Regions from separate parts of the Homo sapiens genome. Here regions 1, 3 and 4 are each linked to region 2. Evidence: fine-mapped expression QTL. A gene starts in region 2. Each other region holds a variant in brackets. All regions are shown on one strand. Distances are from middle to middle.

Evidence for each region. PIP is the estimated chance that this variant, and not a neighbour inherited with it, causes the effect. A credible set is the group of variants that fine-mapping cannot tell apart.
Region 1: its variant is the best candidate, but not a certain one, in a credible set for the expression of RBM47 in thyroid (GTEx, PIP 0.80).
Region 3: its variant is the best candidate, but not a certain one, in a credible set for the expression of RBM47 in fibroblasts (GTEx, PIP 0.59).
Region 4: its variant is the best candidate, but not a certain one, in a credible set for the expression of RBM47 in thyroid (GTEx, PIP 0.66).

The regions. Positions count from the first base shown.
Region 1 is chr4:40,417,938-40,423,086 of GRCh38, reverse strand. No RefSeq gene overlaps it. Among named protein-coding and RNA genes, the nearest start is that of RBM47-AS1, 5.6 kb to the left of the region's middle. RefSeq lists a cis regulatory region at 4,424-4,437 and an enhancer at 4,358-4,502. The variant C/T (reference allele first, on the strand shown) is at 2,840.
Region 2 is chr4:40,627,723-40,632,871 of GRCh38, reverse strand. RBM47 (RNA binding motif protein 47) reads left to right here and starts at 3,008. Exons shown (of 7, transcript NM_001098634.2): 1 at 3,008-3,476. RefSeq lists enhancers at 3,145-3,214, 2,397-3,274, 3,275-4,151.
Region 3 is chr4:40,578,171-40,583,319 of GRCh38, reverse strand. The region is part of intron 1 of RBM47 (RNA binding motif protein 47); the gene reads left to right. Among named protein-coding and RNA genes, the nearest start is that of RBM47, 49 kb to the left of the region's middle. RefSeq lists a silencer at 1,163-1,341. The variant C/TC (reference allele first, on the strand shown) is at 2,846.
Region 4 is chr4:40,676,858-40,682,006 of GRCh38, reverse strand. No RefSeq gene overlaps it. Among named protein-coding and RNA genes, the nearest start is that of RBM47, 50 kb to the right of the region's middle. The variant T/G (reference allele first, on the strand shown) is at 2,654.

The sequences.
Region 1 (5,149 bases), 210 kb after region 2:
TCACTCCTCTAATCCCAGCGCTTTGGGAGGCCAAGGCGGACAGATCACCTGAGGTCAGGAGTTCGAGACCATCTGGCCAACATGGTGAAACCTCATCTCTACTAAAAATACAAACAAAATTAGCCAGGCATAGTGGTGGGTGCCTGTAGTCCCAGCTACGTGGGAGGCTGAGGTAGGAGAATTCCTTGAACCCAGGAGGCGGAGGTTACAGTGAGTCGAGATCATGCCTTTGCACTCCAGCCTGGGCAACAACAGCAAAACTCCATCTTAAAAAAAAAAAAGATGGGTTACATAGCTGAATTGTGAATTATGAGTATCCTCAAACTTTGGCTCAAGTGGTAGGAGATTGAACACTCAAATAATACTCAAATCTGGATTGGAATAGGATGTGACAAAGCCTGTCACCACCCTCAGTGCCAAAGTTTATTTATAATCCCAAAGGCTTTACACGCAGAATTTTAAATGGAGAGAGTTGATGTACATTGAGTTTTCTGATGGTCTCATGAAAGTGCTGGGATGACCTTGATGTTGGTCATTGCATTTGAAACCAAAACCTTCTCGTTTCTCCTTTTCACCGTGCATAGCAAGGTTAACAGGACACTTTCCTTTTCTCTAGAGATCATCACTAACTTCAGACAGTATCTATCATCAAAGCCAATCAGATGACAGGAGGGAAGGTGGTGGATTGTCAATAGAATAAAGTTCCACTTGGATTTGCCAGTGATTAAGAATTTTACCTTCTTAGATTTGAACCTGGACTGTGGCCTCCCAACCTGCATTTCTTGGAATTCTAACTTCCTGCTTCCTCTTAAATGGATAAAGGCCTTTTTAGAGGCTGAACAGACTGGGAAACTTCCCAAGATGACAGCTTATTAGGCAGTGTTTTTAGGAGCAACAAGAGCTGCTGATCTTCTTGTTCTAGCAAATAAGTACAAAAGGTCTTCAAGTTGCAGGATCACATTCAGGTTAGACTGATCTCTTTAGAAAAAGAATTAACAATCAAAATGAGGAGGCCAATAGCGTGTCACATGAGGAGAATGACTATGATCATGTGATTCACTGGGCTGTTAGGCTTCCATAACCTCAGATGGACCTGTCAAGAACTCAGCGAAACAGGCAGGACAGATAAAGATATGTGACTGGTCAAGATCACACAGCTGGTAATAGGACTCAAATCTATACTCAAGGCCAAGCGCAGTGGCTGCCGCCTGTAATCCCAGCATTTTAAGAGGCCAAGGCAGGTGGATCACTTGAGGTCAGGAGTTCAAGACCAACATGGTGAAACCCCATCTCTACCAAAAATATAAAAATTAGCTGGGCATGGTGGTGGCACCTGTAGTCCCAGCTACTCAGGAGGCTGAGGCAGGAGAATCAGTTGAACCCAGGAGGGCAGTGGTTGCAGTGAGCCAATATCATGCCACTGCACTCCAGCCTGGGTGACAGAGTGAGACCTTGTCTTAAAAAAAAAAAAAAAAAAAAAAAAAAGTCTACACTCAAGACTCCTTGTCCCAGGTTCTAAATGCCCCATTTTTTTGATTCCAAAAATGTCTGTCATGACAACATGCAAAGAACTTAATTGAAAGAAGAGTTAGAAAACATAACCTGATTTTTCTTGTATATTCAATTTTTATATGATTTCTTTATTATAAAGCCTTCTGGGCACTGAGGCTTTGTATTTGAGTTTTTTGTTTTGTTTTGTTTGGATTTGATTTTTATTTTATTTTTTTTTTTGAGACGGAGTCTGGCTCTGTAGCCCAGGCTGGAGTGCAGTGGCGCGATCTCAGCTCACTGCAAGCTCCGCCTCCTGGGTTCACACCATTCTCCTGCCTCAGCCTCCGGAGTAGCTGGGACTACAAGTGCCCGTCACCACGTCCGGCTAACTTTTTCTATTTTTAGTAGGGACGGGGTTTCTCCATGTTAGCAAAGATGGTCTCGATCTCCTGACCTCGTGATCTGCCCACCTCAGCCTCCCAAAGTGCTGGGATTACAGGCGTGAGCCACCGCGCCCGGCCTTGGATTTGATTTTTTAAGTCATAGGAAGTGTGACATTTTGGCATGGCTGTTTAGATGAAATAACGTTTTGACACCATGACCCTAAAAACAAAATCCATCTTCAGCTACTGGGTAGGATGATACAGATGTTCTGACCTTATCCTACCTTTTCCTTGACACATTCACCATTTCTGAACCCCCAAGGTCAAAGGGAGGATTAGGTTTAAATATAGAAAGAGACTCAGGGGACATCCACAAAATGTTTTACATCAATTCCAAGGTCTAAGCTATTGGACTGGGTACAGCCTTTTCTCCTGTCTCCTCTTTTCACTTACTAGTACCCAGCATTCCTGTTTCTAACTCTTCATGCCAATAAATTTAGGGGACAAATGTGATTACCCAAATGCTAACCTGTATGAGCAAGTGCCATGGCCTACTAAAATAGGCTGGGTTTGTGGTCAGAATGCCTAGGGGTGAAACCCCAGCTTTGCTACTTGCAAGTCATGAGACTTTGAAGAAGATGCCTTACCTCTCAGTACCAGTTTCTTAACTGGTAAAATAGGGATAATAATCCTGACCTCATAAGGTTATTATAAAAATGAGATGAGTTGGCCAGGCGTGGTGGCTCACGCCTGTAATCCTAGCACTTTGGGAGGCTGAGGCTGGTGGATCATTTGAGGTCAGGAATTCAAAACCAGCTTGGCCATCATGGTGAAACCCCGTCTCTACTAAAAATACAAAAAATTAGCTGGGCATGGTGGTGTGAGCCTGTAATCCCAGCTACTCAGGAGGCTGGGGCAGGAGAATCACTTGAACCCAGGAGGCAGGGGTTGCTGTGAGCTGAGAT[C/T]GTGCCACCGCACTCCAGCCTGGGTGACAGAAGGAGACTCCATCTCAAAAAAAAAAAAAAAAAATGAGACGAGTTATAGACAGTTATTTCCTTTCCCATCTCCTTTTTAAACTCTAGTGTGACTGCATTCCTCTTTGTTAATTCTATCAAGCCTTTCCATTTTAAATCCTTTTATGATTTTTTTAACTCTTTCATTCACTGAAATTTTTTATTCTTTTATTCACCTGTTTATTCCATAAACATTCATTGCTGGAGTACCAACTATGCAGGATTCACCAGAGAAATAAATCAACAAAATTGACCCTCTGCCTTCTGGAAACTCCCAGGCATGATAAGACTGTTTTATGGAAGGGGCACACACCCAGGCTCGAGCCAGAGATCTACAAGATGAATAGGAGTTAGGCAGATGAGTAGGGGGAAAAGGGATCGGGAAATGCCTGGGCCCGGAGGAAAGAACACGGTATCATCAAGTCCATGAAATCAGTTCAGGGTGGCTGCCTTAAAGGAGGAGAAAGTGTGAAGAAATCCAACCTTTGCACTGTTCAACATTAAATAGGGTTCATGGCCCTGTGTTAACTGTGGGAGGAAGAGATTTGGTCCCTATGACAAGGAAGCTAGGGGAGCCAGTAATCACAGAGAAAGAACCCTCAATCATTCATTCCTTCTTAGGACTTTCAGGAAATGGTGGAGCCCTGCGTTTATCTACACTGCTGAAGCTAGAGCTGCCCCTAGTGAAAAACTCCCTTCCTGCTGCCTTCCTGGCCCCAGGGGGGGATGCCTCCCAACTCTGAGCTTGTCCAGGAGTTTATAGCAGCAATCAAAGCTTTTAGGGCTGCCCACCTGTTTCTTGTGCAGGTCCAGGTTCCAGCCTCTGGGACCTTCACCCTTTCCTCTTGGGTCATACAGCAGCTGCATGTGGGTGTCCCCACTGTTCCTACGTAAACCCCCCATGGGACAGGAATGCAGGCTTCTCAGCAAAGGTGATGGAGGCCTATAGTCCTCCAGATGACTGAGGGTGGATGATATGGTTTGGCTGTGTCCCCACCCAAATCTCGTCTTGAATTGTAGCTCCCATAATCCCTATGTGTCATGGGAGGGACCTGGTGGGAGGTAATTGAATCATGGGGGCAGGTTTTTCCCGTGCTGTTCTCACAATAGTAAGTCTCATGAGATCTGATGGTTTTATAAAAGGCAGTTCCCCTGCACATGCTGCCCTGCCTGCTGCCATGTAAGACATGCCTTTGCTCCTCCTTCACCTTCTGCCATGATTGTGAGGCCTCCCTGGCCATATGGAGCTGTGAGTCCATTGAATCTCTTTCCTTTATAAATTACCCAGTCACGCATATGTCTCTATTAGTAGCATGAGAATGGACTAATACAGTGGAGGAGAATCCTAAGTAAAATCTTCAGAGACACATTGGCTTCCCCAACAGGATCATATTTCCTTGAAACTCCATTCTGCACAGTTACCAGAAACAAAAGCAACACTAATCCCTGCATATGCAAGAAATATGACCTTTCCTAGGCTAATTTTTAGCCACCCTTCTTTCTTGGCTCGTTCTACTTTGTTTGTCAAAAATCTTCATTAATGATTAACCAACCATGAGGTTTAAATAACCTTAGTCATTCTAAGGCAGCTAAGAGATGTCACTGAAGCCCAGTTTTTTCTGAGATGACCTTGCTGGGGGTGTGCTGGGTCAAAACATTTGCACTTAATGGTATTGTGATAACACTGGGCCATGCCAGTTTGGTTTTGCTGGGATTTTTCCGCTCCTTTTTCACGACCTTTATTCCAAACTGACAGCACCATGAGATAGTTTTACTTCCGTCGACCTCACCACCCTCACACCTCCACCCCCATTCAAATTTGGCCATTTGACCCTTTCTCAATCTTATATAGAGTACTATGCAGACTCAGCTTCCCAATAAACCCCTAATGTCCCCTTTCCAAATAAGACACTCCCCTAAGGAGAGAAATTCTGGAAATGCAACTGATTCTAAATGTGCTCTAGCATTTATAGAGGGAATCTCTTGTGCATAAGAGACAACAGCCAAAATAATCTACTTAGAAATTACCCAACGCTTTAGTGCAAACAGCCGTGCCACTGAGTGCTCAGTCAAGCCTGCCTTCGGCGAGCATGTCTTTTTTTGGTTCCTCATTTTCCTTGTGTTTGGGAATAATGTTAAAGTCTTAGATGATGATCATTCAGCAGGAGATAAGAATAATGGCTGACAGTAACTTACCATATATGCCAATGGTCAAGTACTTTACGTGGATATTTTTTAAACTTTTTATTAAAAGAGTAACAT
Region 2 (5,149 bases):
GAGCCTCCTCAAGCAGGAGTTTTCCCTGACTCCAGTTCCAGTTCACCTGGAGTCACTGACCTCCACACTTTCAAATTTCTTTTATTTTTATCATTTTTTAAATTTATTTATGTGTTTATTTTTTTTTTTGAGACGGAGTCTTGCTCTTTCGCCCAGGCCGGAGTGCAGTGGCGCGATCTCGGCTCCCTGCAAACTTCACCTCCCGGGTTCAAGCCATTCTCCCGCCTCAGCCTCCCGAGTGGCTAGAATTACAGGTGCCTGCCACCATGCCCAGCCAATTTTTGTATTTTTAGTAGAGACGGGGTTTCGCCACGTTGGCCAGGCTCATCTGGAACTCCTGACCTCAGGTTATCTGCCTGCCTCGACCTCCCAAAGTGTGGGGATTACAGGCGTGAGCCACCGTGCCCAGCGAGAATGTCCCCTCTAGAATCCTTCAGCTCAGACAGTCTGTGACAGCGAGCCTTTTTTGAGGCCATAATCCAGATACTTCTGGAAAAGAAAAGAAAATTTCAGGCTAATATGGAGCTGGGTTTTTTAGTTGTCTTAAGGGGGTGGAGCCGTTGTTTGTGCCTGGCAGCATCAACCCTTAGGTCTGGTGAGGGAACTTAGCTAAGAGAGTTCCCACTGCCTGCTGTTCACAGTACATGCTGGCTGGTATCGACAAAGAATGAACCTAAAACACAGGAAATGTTGAATTTGTCTGGGTTAAATTTTGCCTCATGAGAAGATAAAAGATCAGAAGGATTTAAAATGTTCCAGAATGCTTTGCTGGTTTTAAGGAATCATTTTTCCCAAAGGTGGCAAATGCTGCTTTTTAAATTTATGGTTTTCTTGATACCCCTTCAGCCTTTGTTTCTCTCTCTTAGGACTACTACTTTTTAATTAATTTTCACTTAACTTTCCAATACTGATGAAATAAAGAAAAATGAGGGTTATTTATATATATTTTAATAAATCCAGTTTGATTTTTCAACTTAAAAAAAAATTAACTAGAACTGAGAACCAGTCCTGGCCTCACCACCTTGGACTTACACTTAACCTGTGTGATCTCAGTGTCTTCATCTGCAAAATGGGGACAAAATAGCTCATAGGATCATTTTGTAAGGATCACATAAAGTAAGAAGGGTGAAAGTGCTCCATAAAGTAGAAAGGGCCTCACTAATGGAAAGGGATTATGATTTCTTTCTTTAAATGTGAAGTTAAATGGAGGATAAAGGGTGGAGGCACTGATAACATTTTAGCCTTCAATAATCACTTTTTAATATTTATGAGGAGTTTCAAAATCATTTCCCTCTCTTTCATACTGCTTTTCAAACGGCAAGGGTCATTATTTGTCCGGCCCAGTCTGGGATAAGTAACTATCCCAGGGTAAGACACCAGGTCAAGTGCCAAAATACAAATGAGAATTAAGCATAGCAGATGGGTGATTGCTGGGCCCTGAATTTCCTTCCCGTTAGTGAGCTTCATGGAATGCAGGCAAATTTATCTCCATTTCTGTTGTCAATCTTGTAACTTTTAAGTGAGATGAAATTCAGTTGGCTACCCTTTACAGGGACTTTATTTCCCATTGTATTCAAGACTGTCAGCAATGAATATAAACTGTTTGTAAAAATCCCATCGTTAGAATCTTCCAGAAACTGAGGCTGGGAGAGATTAAATATCTTGCTCATGGCCTCACAGCTGGTGAGTGGCAATGCTGGTGCTACAGCCCATGTCTAACTCTGACCACACACTCTTCTTCAGAAAAAAGCCATAATGTAAATAATAATAAGAAGAATAACAACAACAATAACGGCAGCTAACACTGTGTGCTAGGCACCGTTCTAAGCTCTTTGCATGTGTTAACTCAACCAGCAAAGAACCATTTTTGGAACATTCTTTCACTAAAGTAGCCCGGTATTTTTTTCTTTCCCCTCAGCTGAATGACACTGCAACCCGAAATCACAACTCTGTTTTAGGTTCCTGGTGGTGCCTGCTTCCTCTTCTAGTTTGTTTAGTCACAGAATTCGATTCCTGTTGGCCCATTCCGCGCCTACAAACAGGCTTAGCGCTCCACTGAAATGCGGGAGGCTCCTTAACTCTTGTATAAACAGGTAAGGCGGAGGGGGTGGGGCGCGGATTGCGGACATCTGGGTTTCTTGGGAATTGGGATGGGGTGGGGGTTCGAGCCAACTCCCCAGAGAGCAGGCAAGGTGAAGCGAGGGCTTGGCTGCTGTTTCTAAATGCAGTGTTTTTTTGTTCCCTTTCTAGAAACCCTCCGTAACTCTAGGTCAGAGCGCACTAAAATGAGCCACTTCTGAACGAGCAGCGCCCAGGCCCCAGGCCCTGCTGCGAAGGCCCCGGCAAAGGTCAGGGCCCCGTCCGCGTGACGCTCCTGCCTGCGCGCGGCCAAGCCATGCTCGGCCCCAGGTAAGGACGCCCCGGGAGCTCGCCCCGGGAGCTCTCCCCGGGCACGCGGGGGTCGCAGAGATCCCACCTCGTCCAGCGACTTGTTTATGGGGGGAAGAAGGGGAGCGGGGCGGTTCCGATCGGCTTGAAATTCAGCAGCAGGTTCCTAATTTCTCCAACGTGGTTCTGGCTGGGTTTCTCGGAGCAGCCCGAAGGGGGCCGAGCGTCTGACTCGGACAGATGCCCCCAGGTGGAGCAGGTGCCACTTCTGGGTGTCTGAAAGGCATGTGACTTTTGGGGCGGGGAGAGAAGTCCGTCTGGTCAAGTCCCCCAATCTCTGCCATCAAGGCCGATTTTCTTTGAACCTTCAGCAAAGGTATCTGCGCTCCTAAAAAACAACAGGAATGTGGCACTGGCCTTTAGCCAGGGGAGGCTCAGCCAGCAGGATAAAATTTCAGGGCAGATTTACGGGAAGTTGCCGGTGTTGGGAGTAAAAATCTGGTTTGGTGAGTTTAAGGGAAGGGAGTAGACGAGAGACAACCTTGCTACTGTGAGGCGGATGGCCTCGGCAGGGGGCGGGCGGCGGGAGGAGAGAGGGAGGGAACCGGGAAGGGCCCGCAGACTAGACGCTGAGCGCTCCCGTGCGCAGCGCCCCACGCAGCCGGGACGCGGCGCCGCTCTGCGGGTGGAACCGCCGCGCGCTCCCGGCCTCGGGAGCTGAGCCCGAGAGAACTTCGCTGCCTTCGGGTCGCCGCTCCCGCTTTCCACTGTGGAATGTGCAGCTTGGGATAGAGAGAAACCAGGGTTTGGGGAGCGGTCCTCCTGGAGACTTTCTCTCTGCAAGTCTCCAAGGTTAAGCAATTCTGACCCACTGGAATTCCCAGAGCCTGGGAGTTAAGCCTAAAACGCTCTGTTGCTTTAAGCGGCGCGGTGGGGAGTCGCTGGACACTCCTTATTTTGGTTTTACATTAAAAAGAAGGCGGACGAGAAGATGTTGTAGGTGACTTCCTAGCTGTGTTAAGTTGCTCCTGGGCTGTGAATGGTGTTAATTTCTGAAGTGGGCGGCTCCAAAAACTTAACAAGGAAAGGTAAGGTGGTTTTTGGTAGTCCTTCTAACTATTGTCCCTTAATCTTACATTTGGGTCCCAATTTTTGAAGTGTATATTTTTTTCTTATTCTTCTCTCTTTAGCTCTTATCCCTCATGCTATCACTCATCTTCTGTCTCTTGGTATATTTAGTGGGAAATAAAGGGTTTATAAAACGGTTTTAAAAGGGTCAACCTCTGGGAAGGCAGATAATCATATACAGTCAGTCCCATCGTGTTTCCTGTAGTGATGAATCTTTTCCCATAAAAGAAACTGATTTTTTTTTTTCACTCTTGAAAATACATGATTGGACCGCCCAGAAGCACAGGTGACTTTAGACTCAGATTATTACAGTGAGACTGAGGAAGCGTCCTGGACAGGAGGCATCTCATTTAAGTGTTAACCAAGGCAGAGGGGGGTCTTCCTGCAGTAATTTACGTCTGAAAGTAACACTCGGTAGAGGTGTAGTTGTTTCAAATTAAAAATTCAGCCTGTAGAAAAGGGTAGGACTGACGAATTATGACATCTGACAAATTAGCAGTTGACCGGATATTTAAGAAATCAGATAAAATAAATGGAAGTGGAATTTTTCAAATAAATGACTCATTTTTTAATTAGGTAAAAGTTCAGCCACTCTTGGGTACTGTCCCAAGGCATAAGTGATAGGAAGATACCATCTTCAAGGTACTTACAGGCCATTACCGACCTGAACTAAAAATCAAACCTTTTTTTTTTATCTGGTGGTATTTTAATGACTCACTGTTTTCTTTAGCAGGAATATAGATTTTAAAATGTATTCTTTAAAAGTTTTAAGGCAAGGTCATACGAATTTCTCAGGGGAGGGAAAGCAAAGGGTTGACAACCCAACATGAAGGAGTTGCCGAAGTTTTGAGCTCAAAAGGTTGGCAATTAGATCCAGAGCATTTGAGAATTGCAGGTGCCGATTCTAAAAGGTGAAAGGTGGTCAGCGGCGTAACACACAACCTCTAGATAAACCAAAGTACTCAACCTAGAGCATAAGAAGAGATCACTTTGTGGGAGTTTGTGTTGCTATTAATTTAAACAATGATCTTTGTTAGATCAATGACTTGAAGTCTTGGAGGGAACTAAAATCAACCCAGTCTGAAAGGAAAACAGAAGGAAAAAAAGAAAGGAGGAGATGGTTTGGTTTTTAATATTTTTTTCTGGTCTGCTTTACCCTTCACCTTGTTCTGATATACACACTGTTGGCCTCTTTGACTTAATTATTGCATGCTGGAAGGATGGGGTCTCAGAAATTTCCCAAGCACCTAGCTTCATTATTAACTTTCAGTATGTGTCAAATGAAGAAATAAGCCTAGCTGTGCCGTCCTTTACCTGGCTAGGTAGGCCATGCTTTAAATTAATTAGATCAAGATATTCTGAATATCAATCAATTATTAAAGATTTATTATCTTCCTCTTGGTTTTTGCGTTTACAGAAGTTTGTAGGATTGAGAATTCATCATCATCATTTTTTTTACCAATCTCTATATTTTTAATAGTCAACATATTTATTTTTGATTCCCCCACTGTGCTGCTTTAAATTAAATTTTGAAAGAATTCTGCCCAAAGCAGTAGTGATACTGAGGATGAAATAAAGACAGAAAGCAAGGGAACTACATGCTTCTGGACACGTGTTCTATAGACTTGCTCTA
Region 3 (5,149 bases), 50 kb after region 2:
GCCTCAGCCTCCCAAGTAGCTGGGATTACAGGTGTGCACCACCATGCCCAGCTAATTTTTTTTGTATTTTTAGTAGAGACGGAGGCTGGTTTTGAACTCTCGGACTCAAGTGATCTGCCCACCTCAGCCTCCCAGTAAATGCTGGAATTACAGGCGTGAGCCACTGTGCTTGGCCGGCCTGACCTTGCTTTTGTCTCCCTTTGCTCTTTCTTGTTCTTTATTCCCATTCTGCAATTAACCCATAACCTTGAAGCTCCTTTTCCCTGTCTCTTCTGTACTTCGCACATTCCACTTACTCTACTAGTTTGATTTTTGAGTGTGTATTGAGCACTTGCTATGTGCTAAGCTGCCTTCGAGGTGCTTATTCACTAGCAGAAAGAGTTTATAAATAAGGGCAATGCAATGTTACAGTTGCTCTGATAGAGTTGGAAGAGAGTACAGCATGGGCAAGGGTGGTAATGAGACATGGATTCTACCAGGGTGGTGACTAGACTTTGTAGAGGAGGTGACAATTGAATGGTTTTGATGACTGACTAGGCGTTGAGAGTAGGGTATAAGGTTGAAGAAGAAACAGGTAGAGGGCTCAGTGCAACACATGAAACAGCCCGGAGCCAGAAGAATGTGTTCAGGAAACGTGACAAGTTTGTATGGCATATGGGGTCATAGTACGGAAGGATGGAGTTGGAGTGAGGCAGGGAACAGATCCTGGAATGCTTTGCTGACTATTGGTAGTGAGTGATGTCATCAGATCCTAGTTTTTGTTTTTATTGTTTGTTTGTTTGTTTTGAGATGGAGTCTTGCTCTGTTGCCCAGGCTGGAGTACAGTGGCATAATCTCGGCTCACTGCACCCTCCACCTCCTGGGTTGAAGCGATTCTCCTGCCTCAGCGTCCCAAGTAGCTGGGATTACAGGCACGCACCACCACACCTGGCTAATTTTTGTATTTTTGGTAGAGTCGGGGTTTTACCATGTTGACCAGGCTGGTCTTGAACTCCTGACCTCAGGTGATCCTCCTGCCTTGGCCTCCCAAAGTGCTGGGATTACAGGCGTGAGCCACTATGCCTGGCCCAGATCTTAGTTTTGGAAAGATTAGTTTGGCAACAAGGACTAGAGTTAGGAATGGCACCTGTTAGTAAGCTATAGTGAGGGTCTGAGTGAAGAACTTGAACTAAGACATAGGCTGCAGGGATAGTAAGAGGGAGATGAGACATGAAGATTCGAGATGGGTTCTGGGAGTGGACTCAGTAAGCCTCAGTGACTGACTGGGTGAAGGGAGTGTAGGAGCAGGAGTGAGAGGCGCCAACCGGGATTCTGGTGTAGGGACCTGGGGGATGGCGATCCACTTGCTAAGATGGGTGCAGAGGAGGGGAAGCGGGTTCGGGGGAGATAATGAGGTCAGCATTGGATATGGTGAGCTTGAGGCGCTGCTCACAGAGTGGAGGAGGGAGGTCTGGTTGCTCCTGGGGCTGGCGTTCAGGAGACAGCTGGGCTCCCGAGCTCTGTGACTGTGGGAGCTGCTGAAGCTCCCTTTCACTTCTTTTCCCTCTTGCAGGACTGATGCCATACACCTGGGCTGCAGCCTCTCTTCACACACACCCTGAAGGCTCTCTGGTTATCTTTTAAGGCATTTTCTGTCTGTGGTTTCTGAGCTGTCTTCTGAAGAAGAGATAATTTAATCTCACCTCTTCCCCCACCACCCCCACCTTCTCATCCACTCACAAGTAGATTGTATCAACCTGGAAGAAGTCTTCCTCCAAGAAACCAAACAAACCATCTCTATGAGATGCTTTCTCATTCTTCATCTTCCCCAGAGTCCCCCTGCAAGCTTAACACTCTCCAATGACCTCTCCTTTTATTTATTTATTTATTTATTTATTTATTTATTATTACTTTTTTTTTGAGACAAGTTCTCGCTCTGTCACCCAGGCTGGAAGCAGTGGTGTGAGCTCGGCTCACTGCAACCGCTGCTTCCCGGACTCAAGGGATCTTCCCACCTCAGCCTCTCGAGTAGCTGGGACTACAGGCGCATGTCACCATGCTCAGCTAATTTTTAAATGTTTTGTAGAGATGAGGTCTCACTATATTGTCCAGGCTGGTCTCGAACTCCTGGACTCAAGCAACCTTCCCATCTCGGCCTCCCAAAGTACTGGGATTATAGGCCTGAGCCACCGTGCCCGGCTTTCTCCTTTTCTTTAGACTAAAACCCAAGCTCCCTCCTATGGCTCATGAGTTTTTCAGCTCATGACCTCTGGCCACCTCCCAACCTCTGTGCTCCCACCTCTGCCTCCATTACCAGATTCCAGCCACAGATTCTTGTTCCTGGAATTAAAGCGAAAACAAAATGAACAAACCTGTTCCCGCCATGGGGCGTTTGCCCTTGTTTGTGCCTAGATTGCTCTTTCCCTAGATCCTTGCTAGGCTCCCTGTCTCTTTGTTCAACTCTCAGCACAAATATCAGAGTGGCCTTCTCTCTCTCACCAATCTCTGTTAATCTCTGTCCCATTCCTCTGCTTTATTTACCTCACAACTTTTACCACTGTCTGAAATTCTCCTGTCTCTGCCTTTATGTATTGTACATCCTTTCCCATTCATGTGCGAGCAGTGGTAGGGATCATTCCTCAATATGTGTGAGAGCTGAGCCTAACTGAATGATATGGGAAACTTGCTCAGCAATGCAAGGAAAGAGAACGGGTGGCTGCGGCTGCCAGTGCGTGCTGGTGAATGCAGCCCATGGGCGGTTGGTGGGTTGGGGAATGATGGTAACCAAATTTCAAGGCCTTTAAACCATCACCGTGCTGTGGTCATCGGGCTTTCTCTTCAGCATCCCTCCTAATTATCTGGCCTT[C/TC]CCACGTGCCTGAGGTTCCTGATCTGGTGTCCACAATGATCTGAGAACTGATTCAAGGATTCTTGGAGCCCTCAGACCCAGGAAGAAGAGAGTTTTTAGGTTCCAAATGAGGAGAGTAAACTTTTTGTTGTTCAGTTTGATTATCCTTCACAACAAAGAGAAGGTACTAGAAACTTGGATGAGGGAGATGAGACAGTGGAAAGGATTCAAGCACACAGATGAGTCACTTGGATTCTAAGAGTTAAAAAAAAAAAAGTATGAGGAAACACATTTAGAAAATATCCATGAAGTGGACTCATTTGACTTTGCTAACTAAACCAAGTTCAACTGAAGGAAAATTTTTTACTGGTGAGAGGTCCAGGATATTTGGCATGTTGGAACTTAGACCAATTCGAATTTATAAATCCTCTAAAAGTAGGCCGGAAGCGGTGGCTCACTCCTGTAATCCCAGCACTTTGGGAGGTCAAGGCAGGAAGATCCCTTGAGCCCAGGAGTTCAAGACCAGCCTGGGCAACAAGGCGAGACCCTGTCTCTACAAAAATAAAAAATAATTTAAAAAAATAGACAGGCATGGTAGTGTGCACCTGTGGTCACCTCTACATGGGAGACTGAGGTAGGAGGATCCCTTGAGCCAGGGAGGCAGAGGTTGCAGTGAGCTGTGATTGTGCCACTGCAGTCCAGCCTGGGTGACAGAGTGAGACCTAGTCTCAAAAAAAAAAAAAAAATTACCCTAAAGTTTACTTTCTCAATGTAATAACTCCAGCAAAGACCCACAGAGAAAAATGCTTCAGAGCTTCTTGGGAATGTAGATTGACTCGTGTATGGAGAAGTGCTCTGATTTGAACCACCTCCATAAGATGGGTAAATTTTCTTCATATCATCTCCCTAAAATAGGTAATCTAGTTCCCACTTAAGTCAGATCTTATTTTTTATAATTTTAATAACTTTTAAATAATTACCCTTAAAGTTATAGAGTTTTACCTAGAGAATCTGAACTAGTTATTCCCATCCAATTTGTTTCTTTGCTATTGCATTTTTTTTTTTTTTTTTTCTGAGACAGGGTCTCGCTCTGTCACCCAGGCTGGAGTATAGTGGCATGATCTCGACTCACTACAACCTCCACCTCCCGGGTTCAAGTGGTTCTCCTGCCTCAGCCTCCTGAGTAGCTGGGACTACAGGCGCGTGCCACCATGCCCAGCTAATTTTTTGTATTTTTAGTAGAGATGGGGTTTCAGTGTGTTAGCCAGGATGGTCTCAGTCTCCTGACCTCGTGATCCGCCAGTCTTGGCCTCCCAAAGTGCTGGGATTACAAGCGTGAGCCACCGTGCCTGGCTGCATTTTTTTTTTTTTTAATTTAAGATAGAGTCTCGCTCTGTTGCCCAGGCTGGAGTGCAGTGGCATGATCTTGGCTCACTGTAGCCTCCGCCTCCCAGGTTCAAGTGATTCTTCTGCCTCAGCCTCCTGAGTAGCTGGGAGTACAAGTGCACGCCACCATGTCTGGCTAATTTTTTGTTATTTTAGTGGAGATGGGGTTTCACCATATTGCCCAGGCTGGTCTTGAACTCCTGACCTCAAGTGATCTGCCCTCCCTGGCCTCCCAAAGTGCTGGAATTACAGGCGTGAGCCATCGTGCCCAGCTTGCTATCACATTTTGAGCACCTACTGTGTGTAGCATTGTGCCAAGCACTTTGTGTGCGTTACCCCTTAGCCCTTACAGCAGGCCCTGCTACACAGCACCATTTACAGATGAGGAACTGAGGCAGTGAGAAGTCATATCTCTTGTCCTAGGTAACATAATAACTCTAGAAGTTAAGGTAGAAGAGAAAATGATAGAAAAGGCCATAAGCAAAGCTTTCAGATGGAAGAACAATGAAATCTAAGTGGTGGGCATGTAGAAAGAAAAAGCTAAGAACACTGAAAATGAATGGAAGTAGAAAATGGAGGCAGAGGGAGGCCATTTATTCTACAATTGTCTATAAGTGTCAGGAGGAAAATCCTATGTGTCAAAAGACAAAATTGCAACAAATTTAGTTTAAAGTTCTCAATTGCTTTTATTTGAGTTTCTAGAATCGGGCAACACTTCCTTCCATATTATAGGAAAAGGGTTCCAGTCAGCCGAGCAGAAGAGCTTGGCTTTATAAAGTAGAAGGAAAGAACTTAAAGTATATTAATTGTTTCAAAGATACTTTTTTTGTAAGGAATGGGACAACAGGAGACAGAACAACAGAAAAATAACATCAGATTACTTTAAGGATTAAAGCAGGGAGTTTCATTATGCCAATTAAAGATTTGAAACTGGCCCAT
Region 4 (5,149 bases), 49 kb before region 2:
GTGAGAGCTTAAAGATTTGCTGAGGCTAATCTGGGTACAGGTAATTGTGTTGATGATATGTTCAAATGCATCTAAGTCTATGCCTGAGTATAGTTGCTGGGTTATAAACAGGCACGTCACACTTCTCTTATACACTTCAGGAAGCTGGAGCGCTGGGTCTTGTTTTCCCTGAAGGCATTAGGGAATGTGCCTGCTCTTTTTCAGAGCGTAAACCTGGAATAGGTTTCCAACGAGGACAATGCAAGCCAGGGCTGAGAGGTGCCATGTGTATGGCACACTGCTGGCCCCAAAGACCAGTTAGGCCAGGAACCAATCCTGTTGAACAGTTAATTAGCACCTATTGTTTATTACTGTGAGTTCTTTCTGAGCTTACCAGTGGCCCTTTTGCCTAATCCAATGGACACTTTTCTTTTTTCTTTTCTTTCTTTTTTTTTTGAGATGGAGTCTCGCTGTCACCCAGGGTGGAGTGCAGTGGTGCCATCTCAGCTCACTGCAACCTCTGCCTCCCAGGTTCAAGCTATTCTCCTGCCTCAGCCTCCCAGGTAGCTGGGACTACAGGCATGAGCCACCAAGCCCGGCTAATTTTTGTATTTTTAGTAAAGTCAGGGTTTTGCCATGTTGGCCAGGCTGGTTTCGAACTCCTGACCTCAGGTGATCCACCCACCTTAGCCTCCCAAAGTGCTAAGATTCAGGTGTGAGCCACTGCGTCTGGCCCCAGTAAGCACTTTTCTATCCTCAGCTTCATGGACAGCCTTGCTGCATTTGCCATCTTGTCTTATTTTGGAGTGAAGCAGTACATTGTGATGTATTGGAGCCAGAATGCCTGGATCCAAGTCCTAGCTCTGCCCTTTGCAGCTCCATTGACCTTGAGCAAGTTACTTAACCTTTGAGTTTCATCATCTTTATCTCCATCTATAAAATGGGACTGATAATAGCATGTTGTCATAAGGTTGCTTGAAAATTTTTAAAGCTATTTTTTTAGCACAGGGGAGGAAAACAGTAAAAATTCAAAAAAAATTTAAAAACCTCTTCTCCATTGACTTCTGGAACATTTGGTTCTTCTCTTGACTGTTGGAGCAGTCCTTCTGTTTCTTTTGCCAGCCTTCTTCCACTCATCCATGAAAAACTGGTGGTTCCCCCAAGATTCTGTCTTTGATCCTCCCCTCTTCTCATTTTGTATAACTTTCCTATGTGATTTCTGCCCTTGGTCTTCCAAACCGTTGTGCCCTGATGCCTTCCAAACCTTTATCTCTAGGCTTTTTTCTTTGTAGACTCCTTTGTCTGGATGGTCCAAGTTTCCTTAAATTCAAAGGTCTAAAGCCAGAACTTCCACTCTTGGCTATAATGGGGTAGTAATTGGTATAAGACCAGCCATCCCACCATTAAAACACACACACACACACACACACACACACACACACACACACACCTGTAATCCCAACACTTTGGGAGCCTAGGTGGGCAGATTGTTTGAACCCAGCAGTTGTTTTTGTTTTTGTGTGTGTGTTTTTTTTTTGAGACCGAGTCTCGCTCTTGTTGCCCAGGCTGGAGTGCAATGGTGCAATCATCTTGGCTCACCGCAACCTCTGCCTCCCAGGTTCAAGCAATTCTGCCTCAGCCTCCCGAGTAGCTGAGATTACAGGCATGCACCACCACGCCGGGCTAATTTTGTATTTTTAGTAGAGACGGGGTTTCTCCATGTTGAGGCTGGTCTTGAACTCCTGACCTCAGTTGATCCACCCACCTCAGCCTCCCAAAGTGCTGGGATTACAGGCATGAGCCACCGCACCCGGCAAGCCCAGGAGTTTAAGACTAGCATGGTCAACATAGCGAGACCCTGTTGCGCATCCTGTGGTCCCAGCTACTTGGGAGCTGAGGTGGGAGGATTGCTTGACCCCAGGAGTTCAAGGCTGCAGTGAGCTGTGATTGTGCCATTGCACTTCAGCCTGAGTGACAGAGCGAGACCCCATCTCAAAAACAAAACAAAACAAACAAAAAAAACCAAGTATTAGTCAACTGTTTCAGGAATTGGCCAGGAGAGAGTACAAGTCTCTGGTCCCTGAGGGAAAAGAAACTCATCATTTTGTTTGTTTGTTTGTTTGTTTGTTTTTTGAGACAGAGTCTTGCTCTGTCGCCCAGACTGGAGTGCAGTGGCGCAATCTCAGCTCATGCAACATCCACCTCCTGGATTCAAGCGATTTTCCTGCCTCAGCCTCCTGAGTAGCTGGGATTACAGGCGCCTGCCACCATGCCTGGCTAATTTTTTGTATTTTTAGTACAGACAGGGTTTCACCGTGTTAGCCAGGATGGTCTCAATCTCCTGACCTCATGATCCGCCCACCTCAGCCTCCCAAAGTGCTGGGATTACAGGCATGAGCCACCGCGTCCGGCCGAGAAACTCATCTTTTTTAAGCCCCAGAATCATTCTGGCTCTTTACCTGGGGGGCAATTTCCTGGCATCCAAGTAGGAAAAGGAGAACTTAACTAAGCTGAGGAGGCAGAGTACAGAGTTTCGGGCAGCTGAGCAGCTGGAATCTGCTGGTTAGAACACTGGAGACAGGAGCTTTGCAGAGGAAGGACTCCAAAAAATCCTCGTGGGGGTGTCCTCTGAGCACTTGGTTAAGAGCTGTGTTGCACATTTGAAAGGTGAGAC[T/G]ACCCAAGGATGACCAGGTACCAGCTTCTGTGCGGTGGAAGAAGCTGAGCAGAGATTGAGTTCAAGCAGCAACGGAGGGGGCGGGCATTAGTTATGGCTCAGCCTGAGTGGGAAAGCACTCTAACACTTTGTTAATGACACTCCAGGCATCCAGCTGGGACATCGAAGAGTTCACGTCTTAAAAGTAAGGACCACGGCCGGGCGGGTGTCTCGCGCCTGTAACTCCAGCACTTCGGGAGGCCGAGGCGGGCTCAAGCTTGAACTTGAGCTCTTGAGCTTCAGCTCAGGAGTTTGAGACCAGCCTGGGCAACATGGTGAAACCCCATCTCTACAAAAACTACAAGTAGCCAGGTGTGGTGGCATGTGCCTGTAGTCCCAGCTACTCAGGAGGCTGAGGCAGGAGGATTGCTTGAGCCTGGGAAATTGAGGCTGCAGTGATCCCTGATCACACCACGGCACTCCAGCCTGGGTGATGACAGAGTGAGGCCCTGTCTTAAAAAAATAAATAAATGAAAGTAAGGATCATGGTCTACAGCAATATTTCTTAAATTGCTGTCCCCTGACCAGCAGCATCAACATAACCTGGAAATTTGTTAGACGTTACTGTTGGAAATGCAAATTCAAGGGCCCCACTTCAGACCTACTGAATCAGAAACTCAGGAGAAGAAGCCCAGAAATTTATGTTCTAACAATAGCTCTTCAGATGATTCAGATACAAACTAAATTTGAGGCGACTGTCCTAGAGGAAGGCCCACACTAGACATGCCCTAACAAAGCCTAAAACTACGCCTTGACAAAATCCACAAGGGAAACAGAGCTCGAAGGTTGGAAAAATATCTTGAAATTTCCAAAGATCTACCCTAACGAAGTTAAAAGCAAAACAAACAAAAAACTCGTATGCAAGCTCAAAGTGACCAGGAAATAACTGACCTGCCTATTGGAACAAAAATAAAGATAACAGAATCCAAAATTTCTACAACGTATTAGCTGTAGTGTCCAGTATTACCATAAAACATTACTAGACATGCAAAAAAAAAAAAAGGAAAAAAAGAAGAAGGAAGAAAGAAAATAAAGAAAAACAAAAGTAGTCAAAGAAATTGACCTGATCCTGAGACTACGCAGATATTAGATGTAGTAGACGAAGACATTTAAGCAGTATTTATAAAGATATTTGTCCAGGTGAGGTGGCTCATCCCTATAATCCCAGCACTTTGGGAGGCCAAGGCAGGAGAAACACTTGAGCCCAGGAGTTCGAGACCAGCCTGGACAACAAAGTGAGACCCTGTCTCTATGAAAAACTGAAAAAAAATAGCCGAGTATGGTGGTGCAGGCCTGTGATTCCAGCCTGTGGCTGAGGCAGGAGGTTTGATTGAGCCCAGGAGGTCAAGGCTGCAGTGAACCAAGATTGCACCATGCATTCTAGCCTAGGCAACAGAGTGAGACTCTGTCTCAAAAAAAAAAAAAAAAAATTAATCTTTTAAAGTAAAAATAAAGACATTCAAGCCTGGGAAATATAATACTACCCTGTCTCGTGGCCGGGCGCAGTAGCTCACGCCTGTAATCCCAGCACGTTGGGAGGCCGAGGTGGGCAGATCACTTGAGGTCAGGAGTTCGAGACCAGCCTGGCCAACATGGTGAAACCCCCTCTCTACTAAAAACACAAAAATTAGCTGGGCATGGTGGCAGGCGCCTATAGTCCCAGCTACTCGGGAGCCTGAGGCAGGAGAATTGATTGAACCTGGGAGGTGGAAGTTGCATGAGCTGAGATCACGCCGCTACACTCCAGCCTGGTGACAGAGCAAGATTGTCTCAAAAAAAATAAATAAATAAAGTAAAATAATAATAATAATAATAATAATAATAATAATAATACCCTGTCTCTACTAAAAAAACAAAAGTAAAGGCTAGGCGCAGTGGCTCACGCCTGTAATCCCAGCACTTTGAAAGACTGAGGCGGGCAGATCACAAGATCAAGCGATCGAGACCATCCTGGCCGATATGGTGAAACCCTATCTCTACCAAAAATACAAAAATTAGCTGGGCATGGTGGTGCGCACCTGTAATCCTAGCTACTCAGGAGGCTGAGGCAGGAGAATCACTTGAATCAGCGAGTTGGAGGTTGTAGTGAGCCGAGATCGCGCCACTGCGCTCCAGCCTGGGTGACAAGAGTGAGCTCTCGTCTCAAAAAAAAGAAAAGAAAAGAAAAGAAAAGTAAAAATTAGCTGGGTATGGTGGCTTGTGCCTATTGTCCTAGCTACTCAGGAAGCTGAGGAGGGAGGATCGCTTGAGCCCAGAAGTTTAAAGCTGCAGCGAGCTATGATCGTGCCACTGCACTCCAGCCTGAGTGACAGAGGAGATCTTGTCTCTAAAGGAAAAAAAGACCAGGCATAGTGGCTCATGCCTGTAATCCCAGCAGTTTAAGAGGCCGAGGCTGGCAGATTGCTTGAGTCCAGGAGTTTGAGACCAGCCTGGGCAACATAGCGAAACCTCATCTCT